Linked DNA regions of Homo sapiens. The protein of the gene in region 2 purifies or fractionates together with the protein of the main gene of each other region. This does not show direct contact. Each region holds a gene or a part of one and is shown on either strand. Other genes may lie near its edges. The genes, in order: SLC2A8, HK3 and SCAMP1.

The links.
Region 1: the proteins of HK3 (region 2) and SLC2A8 fractionate together in Homo sapiens (co-fractionation; one large-scale study listed by BioGRID). This does not show direct contact.
Region 3: the proteins of HK3 (region 2) and SCAMP1 fractionate together in Homo sapiens (co-fractionation; one large-scale study listed by BioGRID). This does not show direct contact.

What each region holds. Positions count from the first base shown.
Region 1 is NC_000009.12:127,400,169-127,403,668, forward strand, and holds part of SLC2A8 (solute carrier family 2, facilitated glucose transporter member 8), read left to right. Parts: intron 1-2,388; coding exon 2,389-2,585; intron 2,586-3,491; coding exon 3,492-3,500.
Region 2 is NC_000005.10:176,885,847-176,889,569, forward strand, and holds part of HK3 (hexokinase-3), read right to left. Parts: intron 3,719-3,723; coding exon 3,535-3,718; intron 3,019-3,534; coding exon 2,863-3,018; intron 2,720-2,862; coding exon 2,486-2,719; intron 1,901-2,485; coding exon 1,605-1,900; intron 1,492-1,604; coding exon 1,355-1,491; intron 1,276-1,354; coding exon 1,156-1,275; intron 52-1,155; coding exon of another isoform or gene 1-51. UniProt on the Homo sapiens protein: Catalyzes the phosphorylation of hexose, such as D-glucose and D-fructose, to hexose 6-phosphate (D-glucose 6-phosphate and D-fructose 6-phosphate, respectively).
Region 3 is NC_000005.10:78,412,467-78,416,189, reverse strand, and holds part of SCAMP1 (secretory carrier-associated membrane protein 1), read right to left. Parts: intron 671-3,723; coding exon 572-670; intron 1-571. UniProt on the Homo sapiens protein: Functions in post-Golgi recycling pathways. Acts as a recycling carrier to the cell surface.

The DNA.
Region 1 (3,500 bases), on a different chromosome or scaffold from region 2:
TTTTTTTTTTTTTTTGAGACAGAGTCCCGCTCTGTCGCCCAGGCTGGAGTGCAGTGGTGGCTCTCTGCAACCTCTGCCTCCTGGGTTCAAGCGATTCTCCTGTCTCAGCTTCCCAAGTAGCTGGGACTACAGGCATGTGCCACCACACCTGGCTAATTGTTTGTATTTTTGGTAGAAAGGGGGTTTCACCGTGTTAGCCAGGATGGTCTTGATCTCCTGACCTCATGAACCGCCAAACCTCAGCTTCCCAAAGTGCTGGGATTACAGGTGTGAGCCACCGCGCCCGGCCGATAGGTGTGTCTTATGACTGAGTTCCAGGGACAGCTGGAGAAGGTGATACCCTCAGCTTTCCTGAAGCCCCCTCTAGGGGTGTGGGAAGGGCTGACTGCTTAGGTCAGTACCTTACTGTGCAGTGACAAACCAGAGGGCTCCAGAGGTGGGTGGGTCCCTGTAAAAATCTTCAGCCCGGGCGAGTAAAGGGCTGAGCAAGTCCCCTGAGAATGTCAGTGCCAGATTCACCATGTCGGCGAGTTGCAACGTGAAGGAGGCCGGGGTCCTGGGGACCCCGAGGGGCAAAGCTGGGCCAGCATGAAGAAACTTCAGGAGACAGGTGTGTTCTCATTAGAAAGAGGCCAGGCTTTAGAGGCCAGACCCAGTGGCTCACACCTGTAATCCCAGCACTTTGGGAGGCAGAGGTGGGCGGATCACTTGAGGTCAGGAGTTCGAGATCAGCCTGGCCAACATGGTGAAAACCCATTTCTATTTAAAATACAAAAATTAGCCAGGCGTGGTGGTGGGCACCTGTAATCCCAGCTACCTGGGGGGCTGAGGCACAAGAATTGCTTGAACCCAGAAGGCTGAGGTTTCAGTGAGCTGAGATCGCGCCACTGCACTCCAGTGTGGGCGACACAGTGAGACTCTGTCTCAAAAAGAAAGAAAAAACAAGGGCAGGCTTCAAATCTGACCATCCTGAGTTTGGGGATAGCCTCTCCTACGTGCTGTGTGACCTTGGCCAAGTCATACCACCTCTGAAAGCCTCAGTTTCTCTGTCTTGAAATGGGCATAACCTCATCTAGTCCAGTACCTGTCCATTAAATTAATTGACACATGAAAAGTGCCTAACAGTGGGTTCCAAATGAGAATTGTCAAGGGATGACTTGAGAACCATGGGGATCATCGGGGTAGGAGGCCTCGGGGGCCTGACGGGCTATGGCCTGGCCCAGGGCACAAGCCCTCTGCATCGTCAGGGCGGATGATACACAGGTCTTTGGTGTTTCATTTTTACCCACTTAACCACCCTAACAAATTCAGAATCCTGCCAGCGATCTGGCTACCTTGGGAGACCTGAGTAAACCAAAGCCCCCACTGTGTGCAGGTGTTGACATTCATCATTTCGGGGACAGGTACTGGGTGTCCACCCACCCGTGGCACTATCTTCAGCTCATCTTAATATGTGCTTGTTGCTTCTCCTGCCTTTCCTGATCAATTTCTGTGAGTTTCGATCCACTGGGGTGGGTGAACTCTGATAACTCCACAAAGTGACATGGTGGTGGCACGTTTGCTTCACATTGGGGCAATCATGTTCCAACGACTAGACTTCATAGAACAATTGTCTGCACCCCCAGCACAGAAGAAAAATAGGGACATCATGGCTACCTTAGAGGTATTTTTCCACTGGGAACCAGGGATGGGTAAGCCTTGGGCTTAGGAAAAATTAGTAATTAGAGCAGCAATGCCCTAGACTCATTTATTCCAGGGCCCCTTTGTAAGAGAACCTTTTAACTTTATATAAAACTAGGTAATTCTGCACTTATGCTGTTCTTCATACGTCAAGACAGCAAAATCCTCTCACCTCTCTACTTTCATGTATACTTTGAATAGATAATGCATTCAAATGACTCAACACTCAAGTGCCAGAGTGGAGAGATGTCCAGTGAAAAGCTTCCTCCGCCTCTGTCCCTTTCTTGTCTGGGGGAGTCCCCATTGCCTGTTTCTTGGTAGCCTTCAGAGAGTCTGTTCATATGAGGGACATGCATATTTATCCTCCCTCCCCCACCTCTTCTACAAATGGTGCCACATCATACCATGCGGACACGCAGCAAGCACCTCATCCTTCATTTTTGTGGCTACATAAATGTTTCGTTGAACGGATGCAGCCTAGTAATGTCCGCGTTGTCATACCCACTGTCGCTTCCGCAGCTGGTGTGATTGGCCCGTGCCATGTGCCTTCATGAACAGTTGTGATAATGGCAATGTCAGTAGCGAACATGAGGGCAGATGTGCAGAGGCAGCGAGGCCCCATCTCTGAAGCTGAGTCTTTGAGGCTGGCAAGGCCCAGGCTGGCTCACCCTGGCTCTGACGCCAGCCTCCTCCACCCACCCCCCGCAGGCTGGGTGCTGGAGTGGCGCTGGCTGGCTGTGCTGGGCTGCGTGCCCCCCTCCCTCATGCTGCTTCTCATGTGCTTCATGCCCGAGACCCCGCGCTTCCTGCTGACTCAGCACAGGCGCCAGGAGGCCATGGCCGCCCTGCGGTTCCTGTGGGGCTCCGAGCAGGGCTGGGAAGACCCCCCCATCGGGGCTGAGCAGGTGAGAGGCTGGAAGGCAGAGCTGACAGGAGTGGGACAGCAGTCACGGGAGGGTAGCACAGCCTGTTCCCAAGGCCACACACTTGGGGGGTGGGGGACAGGGAGGTGCCTATCCACCCTCCACCCTCAGCGAGGACAGGCCCAGTGTGTCCTGTCTTTGAGCAGGCCAAGACAGCTGGAGCCCCACGGAGCTGGGCCCTGGCCTCCAAAGTCACCAGCAAAGCCCGAGCTTTGACCCTTACTGTCCCAGGAAGAGAATGGCCAGGCCTGGTGGGGGATACAGAGGCAGAGCTGAGGACTTGGATTTAACAAAGGAGTTGCAAGGCAGGGTAGAGGGCTAAAAGTCTGGGTTTTAGAGTCACCCAGGCATGGGTTTGAAGCCCCCACGCTGCCCCTCACCTAAGCTTTAGCTCTTCACCTGTGATGTGGGAGTCAGCACCTGCTTCACAGTGCTGGGTGGGACTCAGTGGGGGAAAGGAAGGCGGGGCTTAGGGAGGAGGGGGGCTCAGTGGGGAGGGTGGGGTCAGCGAGGAGGATGGGTTCAGTGGGGAGGGGAGGGTCAGGGCTGTAGGAGGTGCTTAGCTAGGGCCAGGCCCAGACCTGAGGCAGGTGCTGGATGTGTTGGTGGTGGCAGGGATGAGGGCAGCAGCTTGCTCTTTGCCCAGATTACCTCTTTGTGGCTCCCCCCCACCTATCAGGAAGTGCCCTGGGCAGGTGAGGGTCATCTCACCTGACACATGGGGAGGCTGGGACTTGTCTGCACACCTGAGGACACAGGGGGTGCTGGGATGAGGAGCCAAGACGTGGGAGTCAGCGCTCCCCAAGCCTTAGGACAGTAGACCCCCAGAGGGGGGCCGCTTGCGGGAGGGGAGAGAGAAATCCTGATGGCCAGTATCCGTCAGAGCAGAGCTTTCAC
Region 2 (3,723 bases):
ACTGAGCAGGCTTAGCCTGGAGCAGAGCAGCCAAGCAGCAAGACTGGCCCACTGCACCATCCAAAGGACCACCGTGTAAAAGAAAGCAGAGTACAGAGTTGCATATCAGGTGGAGTGCGGTGGCTCACGCCTGTAATCCCAGAACTTTGAGAGGCTGAGGTGAGCGGATCACCTGAGATCAGGATTTCTAGATCAGCCTGGCCAACATGGTGAAACCCCATCTCTACTAAAAATGAGCTGGGCGTGTTGGCATGTGCCTGTAGTCCCAGCTACTTGGGAGGCTGAGGCAGGAGGATTGCTTGAACACAGGAGGTGGAGGCTGCAGTGAGTGAGCCAAGATCATGCCATTGCACTCCAACCTGGGCGACAGAGTGAGACTTCATCTCAAAAAAAAAAATGAGTTGCATATCAGAGAGAGGTCAGAGCAGGAGCAGGGGGTGAAAATCACATGGAGGCTGGTTGGAGTAGGTGAGATGAAGCTTTTCATTGATCACAGGTGTCTAAGAATGCAACTGTTGCCTTCAGGGGCAGTGAGCTCCTTGGCAAGAGGCTTTCAAGCAGAAGTTGGGTATGTTGAAAGGGAGATTCCTGGGAGTTTGGACCAGAGGCCCGGGAGGTATTGTTTCCGTGACAGGCTTCCGGTGTGCACATTGAGAAGTCCCTCATCCTTGTGTAAGAACAAGCTAAAGTGTGTGCTGAGTAGGGATGTGTGTCTTAGCCTGTGCCTGGCACTCTGCCACCCTAGTCATGCACCCAACACTGAGCCAGGCACTGAGAAGGAAACAAAGAAAGGAGGAGGAGAGAGGCCAAAAAAACCCCAAGCGACCTCAAGCCCCTGCTAGAGACAGGAACAAATGCTGGTTCCTGCAGGACCCTGAGGCCCACACACCAGTGCTATAGCTAAAATGGACGATCTGTCCTCTGATCAGCCCCAGTCTAGGCCTGACCTGCTCCCAAATGGTTCAGACCCTAACCCTGGGCCTACCCTGTCTGGGGAAACTGAGGCTGTGTGCAAGCCCAGCCCAGCAGTGCTGCCACCACCACCAACCCCAGACCCGCCACCGCCCAGCCTTTTCCCCTGCCTCCTGCCCACTCCATGAAGGGTATGTGGGGGCAGGAGGCCCTTGGGAATCACTTCTCTTGGCCCTCCCTCACCTGGTCTAGGCCAAGCTGCCTACATGGGAAGGAGAAGGTAAAACCCAGTGGGAGGCTCTGCCCGCTCAGGCCCTGCTTCTGCTGGAAGTCCACGATGCAGTCCACGATGTGGTCAAAGAGCTGTGGGGCAGGACAGGTCAGGCGTAGGCACTGCTCAGCCCTTCCCCACCTCTGACATCAAGGTTCAGGCTGTGGGTACCTGCTGCCCAGAACCCTGGGCCACAGTCTCGGGAATGGAGTAGATCTCGCTGGTGATCTGCACGCCTGTGGTCACACGTACCAGGAGGACACGGAAGTTCGTGCCCCCGAGGTCCAGGGCCAGGAAATCCCCTCGCTCTGTGGGGGCAGAGACCCTCAGTGCCGGGATAGGGCTTGTGGCTCCAGCCCCAGCACACACTGGGACCCCCAGGAGCCCATGTTTCGGTCCCACACTCAGGCCAGGTCCTTACCGCTGCCGTCAGGGGTGGCCCGGACGAAAGTGGGCAGCATGCGAAGGGAGGAGGCCTCCCCTCGGAGCCCCTTGGCCATGGCCTTCCGCATCTGTGCCTGAACCGCAGCCAGTTGATCATGGTTCAACCGGAATGGGGCCAGGGTCTCCTCCAGCAGGCGCCGGTGGGCAGCCAGACGGGCAGCCACGGCAGTCACCATCGCCACTCCCCGGCCACCACCATCCACAGAGGGGATTAAGGAGACATCGCATTCCGGGGCCAGGAGCATCACTGTCCCCTGCAGGACGCTGCAGAACCTACAGATACATACAGGTGCACCCGGCTTGGCCCTGGACCCCCAGACACACACAGGTGTGCACGGCTTGGCCCTGGACCCCCAGATACATACAGGTGTGCCCAGCTTGGCCCCAGACCCCTAGGGCCTCCTGAAGCCCAAGGCCCCATCACTTTTTTTTTTTTATTTTTGTAGATATCGAGTCTTGCTCTCTCACCCAAGCTAGAGTGCCACGGAGTGATCATGGCTTACTGTAACCTCAAACTCCCAGGCTCCAATGATCCTCCCACCTCAGCCTCCCAGTGTTGAGATTACAGGCGTGTACCACCATAGCCAGCCTCCCCTATCACTTCAATTTGAAATCTGTTCTGTGCACCAGCCATACGCCCCCGTGTCGCCATGGCCTCCACCCTTGCACACACAAAGGGAAGCATCGTTTCTCTCCTTGGATGTCTTCTGGCCTCCCATAGCTCAGTCTGGCCCTCCCTCTGCCTAAGTGCCCTTCGTGTCCACTGGCTTGCACATGTGATCCCAGAGGGCCCTCTGGGTGTGTATCACACACACGTGTTCATGCCAACTAATCATGCGGATCACGTTTCCACAATACCTGGGGTGCCGCTCACACACTCGGCCTCCGGTGGCCACAGCAACCTGGAGTGTTTGTTGCTCCCGGCTGTGCTGGAGGCAGGAGAGAACAGCGGCCAGGGCGGCAGCACAGAGCTGGGCAGCCCGCGTGCACACGGCCGCACAGACGTGCTGCACAAGCTCAACATCCGAAGCCCCAGGGCTCAGGCCCAAGTCCTGCAGGATAGCATGGACACGGGCTGCCCCAGTAGAGGGGCTGGAGGGGAAAGGGAAGTGGTTTGGGGCTCAGCCCAGAAGCTCCCCATCCCACTAAAGCCCCATGGCTACCTTGGGAACAGAGTATCATCCCCTTCCTCCAAGCCAAGAATCCCCCACTAAACCACCATCTCCCCGACTCACTCCTCCATCTCAGCCACGTGTTCCAGGAGGATGCTGCCTTGGCTCAGCAGGGCAGGGGAGGTGCAGCCACCAAAGAGGACCCCACACCGGGCCAAGTGAGCCAGCACCAGCCGCACCAGCTCACCCAGGTACAGGCCTCCGATCATCTTCTCAAACCTGCAGGGGGGAAGGGTGGCTGGAGGAAGCCTTTTCTAAGCCCTCAGTCCACCTGGCCCTACCTCCAAGAGTTCCCAAAGAAGGATTCTTTTCTTTGGGGCTCCCAAACTGGAGACTCCAGAAGCAACGAATAGCCTCCCAGAGGACAGGTGGGTGTATGCCCAGACCCCACTGCCCCCTCTGACATAGGTTACATTCAGAAGCCTCCTGGAGAACAAGAAGGACCCAAAGGAAGGCAGAGAGCAGTTTGCTCAACCACTTCCAGCCCTCAACCCCCAAACTGTCAGGGCAGGCCAGAGTCAGGAACAGGGAAGATCAAGGGTTGACAATTCTGGATTCTAGAACTTTGGGCCCTTCCTTCTTTGAACCTGGCCAGGGCCCCCAGGTTGCTCCCTGGAGACCCTCAGAGTGACAGGGAGGGGCCTAAGGGCCTGAGAACAGGGACAGAAGGGGTTGGGAGCAGAGCAGTCATAGACAGGGCCTGGAACCAAAGGTCAGGGCCCCCTGCCAGGTCACCTCTGAGCACCAGGATTCAGGGACTCATGGTCCAGGGTATGGTCGAAGGTGGTCAGCACTGGTCCCAGCGCCCCATCATCGCTGAAGGAGCCCCACTCGACGCTGACGCAGACGCGGCCCCGGTCTTCGTCCAGCACTGCCACATGCCGTGCCTCCTCCATGTAACACGCGTTGGTGCCCGTGTCTGGC
Region 3 (3,723 bases), about 98 Mb from region 2:
ACAATAGAAAAAAGGGCAACTGAATTGGCTCCTATTAATCAGATTAAATGATATATAAGGCCACCAATGCAAGAATATTTTCTAATATCTTAAATGTTATAGGAGAATGAGGTCAAAAGATGTGATTAAGAAATTCTTTATAACTCAATTTGCCCTTACATGCTATCAGGCATCTTATTAATCTCCTTTCTTCTCAGATTTTTGCCATCTTCTACCTCCTAACACTGTTATTTTACCATTGCAACGCTCTCCCAATAATATCTATTATTCCATCATTTTTACCTTAATGGTAGTGTGCATTAAAAAGTGGGACCAAAGGCAATAAAAATTTATCCACTGAGATGATACATAAATTCAATAATTCCTAATAATGGAATAAAGCAAATGGTATAAGCTGACAAAAAGAGGAATGAGTATTTGAAGGGTGACAAGACAGCAAATCCAGACTTGAAAGTGAGTTAAAAATTAAGCAACAGAAATGTAACCATATAAAGATTTATTTTGCTCTGAAAGCAAATGTTATTGATATTATAATGGCCAATATGAATTTATACAACTAACATGAACTAACCTTTGCAATCTGTGTATAAGCTGGATGTTCCTCTGTTGGTTTCATTATTGCTGGTTGTGTATTGGGTACATTAGGCATCTTCACACCGCCTGGTGGAGGCTAGGAGGATTAAGAGAAGGAAAATTATGTAACACAGAGATCCAACTTTAACTTCTTTCAAAAAGTATAACACCAATAAAATGAAAAATCCCAAAATCTGCATCTCTTCATTCCCTGCTCTCTCATAGTCAAGTGTGTGGCAAAGAGCTGCTTAAATTCTCCATCTCCATTTTCTCCAACTCATTCATTTTTCAACTCTACAATCAGACTGCTACTTATAACACTATATGACAAACACTCTCCTCCAGGATACCGTATGTTAATAGAGGCCAGGCATGGTGGCTCATGCCTGTAATCCCAGCACTTTGGGAGGCCAAGGCGTGTAGATCACCTAAGTCAGGAGTTCAAGACCAGCCTGGCCAATATGGTGAAACCCCGTCTCTACTAAAAATACAAAAATTAGCCGGGTGTGGTGGCGGGCACCTGTAATCCCAGCTACTTGGGAGGCTGAGGCAGGAGAATCACTTGAACCGGGGAGGTGGAGGCTGCAGTGAGCCAAGACTGTACCACTGCACTCCAGCCTGGGCAACAGAGCAAGACTCCATCTCAAAAAAAAAAAAAAAGAACTTTTGAGTTTAATAGTAAAATACAGATAGAACCAGACAAAAGAACTACACCAAGGTTTACTGCCAACTCTTCCCTCTTGAGAAAGCTACATGCCAGTGCTCTGAAGAGTATACAGGAAAGTTCTTGGTAGAACCCCACTAAATTTAAAAGAGTAAAAGGGAAGGCGTAAGGAGAGAGAAAATAAATTACCCAACTTCCACTTTGCCAGTGAGGATCAGTAGTGTCTGAAAGCTGCAAGATCAGGAAGTAGACATCTACAAGTCCATCAATGGGGGATTGGTTAAATTACTGTATATACATACAATGCAGCCATGAGAATAAATTAGCGATAGAAGAATGTCTTTTAAAATACTAAATAAAATAAAGCAAGCTGGCCGGGCGCAGTGTCCTATGCTTGTGATCCCAGTACTTTGGGAGGCCGAGGCAAGTGGATCACAAAGTCAGGAGTTCGAGACCAGCCTGGCCAATATGGTGAAACCCCATCTCTCCTAAAAATACAAAAATTAGCCAGGTGTGGCGGCGGGCGCCTGCAGTCCCAGCTACTTGGGAGGCTGAGGCAGAAGAATCGCTTGAACCCGGGAGGCGGAGGTTGCAGTGAGCTAAGATCGCACCACTGCACTCCAGCCTGGGAGACAGAGCAAGACTCCATCTCAAAAAATAATAATAATAATAAAATAAAAATTAAATTAAAAAATAAAGCAAGCTACAGAACAGTCTGTATATGACCTTTTTTTCAACAGACACAGATTTATACATGCCCCCATAAAATATCTGGGAAGTCTCGGCCACCTGATATCAGACGGACTTGCACCTGTTGTTTTATATGCCTCTGTATTATTTGCTTCCCTCGACACATGCACCATATACTACTTTAATAAAAATATATTTTTAAAGTACTCTTTAGAATGACCATAAGAAAAAAACAAAAAACAAGGATGGGAACATGAAAAGAACAATAGAAGCAAAAACAGTAACAGAAAAGAAAAGAAGAAAGGAAAGAAAGAGAAGAGGGAGGGAAGGGGGAGGTCATAAATAAGAAAAATATAAAAAAGAAAGAAGCTGCACAAGGACGTTCAAGGATCTTAAGAACTATTAAAACCAGAAGACACCACCAATATATAGCAGGATTTTACTCTGACACAGCTAACAGCAGCCCTGAAAAGGAAGCCACGCATAACCAAAGATATAACTGTAGTTCAGCTGATTCTAAAATGCATATACAAAAGGCAAGAACCGGCTGGGTGCAGAGGCTCACACTTGTAATCCCAGCACTTTGGGAGGCCAAGGTGGGCAGATCGCCTGAGCTCAGGAGTTCGAGACCACCCTGGGCAACATGGTGAAACCTCGTCTCTACTAAAATACAAAAAATTAGACAGGCATGGTGGTGTGCACCTGTAGTCCCAGCTACTGGAGAGGCTGAGGCATGAGAATCGCTTGAGCCTGGGAGGCAGAGGTTGCAGTGAGCCCAGATTATGCCACTGCACTCCAACTTGGGCTACAGAGTGAGAGTCTATCTCAAAAAAAAAAAAAAGGCAGGAACTAAAAACAGGTCAAACCATTTTGAAGAAAAACAAAGTAGGAAGACCTATGATATCAAGGCTTATTATAGAACCACAGTAATTAAGAGTGTAATACAGATGCAAGGACAGAGAAGTGTACCAATAAACAAAACAGACACAGAAACAAACCCACACAAATGCAGAAACTTGATATCTAACAGAGGTGTCACTACAAAACAGTGAAGAAACAATGTGTTAATCAATAAACGGTGCCTGGATAACTGGTTACTCATATAGGAAAAAAAAACATTTCTTACTTCGCATCATATACAAAGATTAATTCGAGGTAAATTCATGATCTAAAACTGAAAAAGCAAAACTTAAACACTTTCAGGGAAAAATACATGTGAATATTTTTATGAATATTTCTTGAGCTTCTAGAATATGAACTCTAGAAATACTGTGTATTTTGTTTATGACCTATCCCAAGTACCCAAAATAGTCCCTGAAACAGTAGATGCTCAGTAAGTATCTGTCAAATTAAGAATGGAAAACACACACCACACAAAATTGACGAATTTAATTACACTGAAATTTACAAAAAGTAAAAAGTCAAATCATGGACTAGGAAAAGATAGTTGTAATGCATATAACAGAAAATTGCTACCCAGAATATATAAAGAATTGTTACAAATCCATGAAAATACAAACTAATCGAAAAACTAGCAAAAGATCTGAACAAGCAATAGAAAGAGGTCAATAAACATGTGAAAAGAGGTGTAACAGCACTAGTAATCAAGAAGTGCAAAAACAATCATATATCATTTCAAAACCATGAGATAGAAAAACAAACTCTGACAATACCAAAATTGGAATTTACACAATATACACAATGGTGGTGCATATGAAAATTAAAGCACTGATCAAGATAGCATTTCAAGTCAATGGAAATACAAAAGGTTGTCAGCAAATGCTGTTGGGAGAATT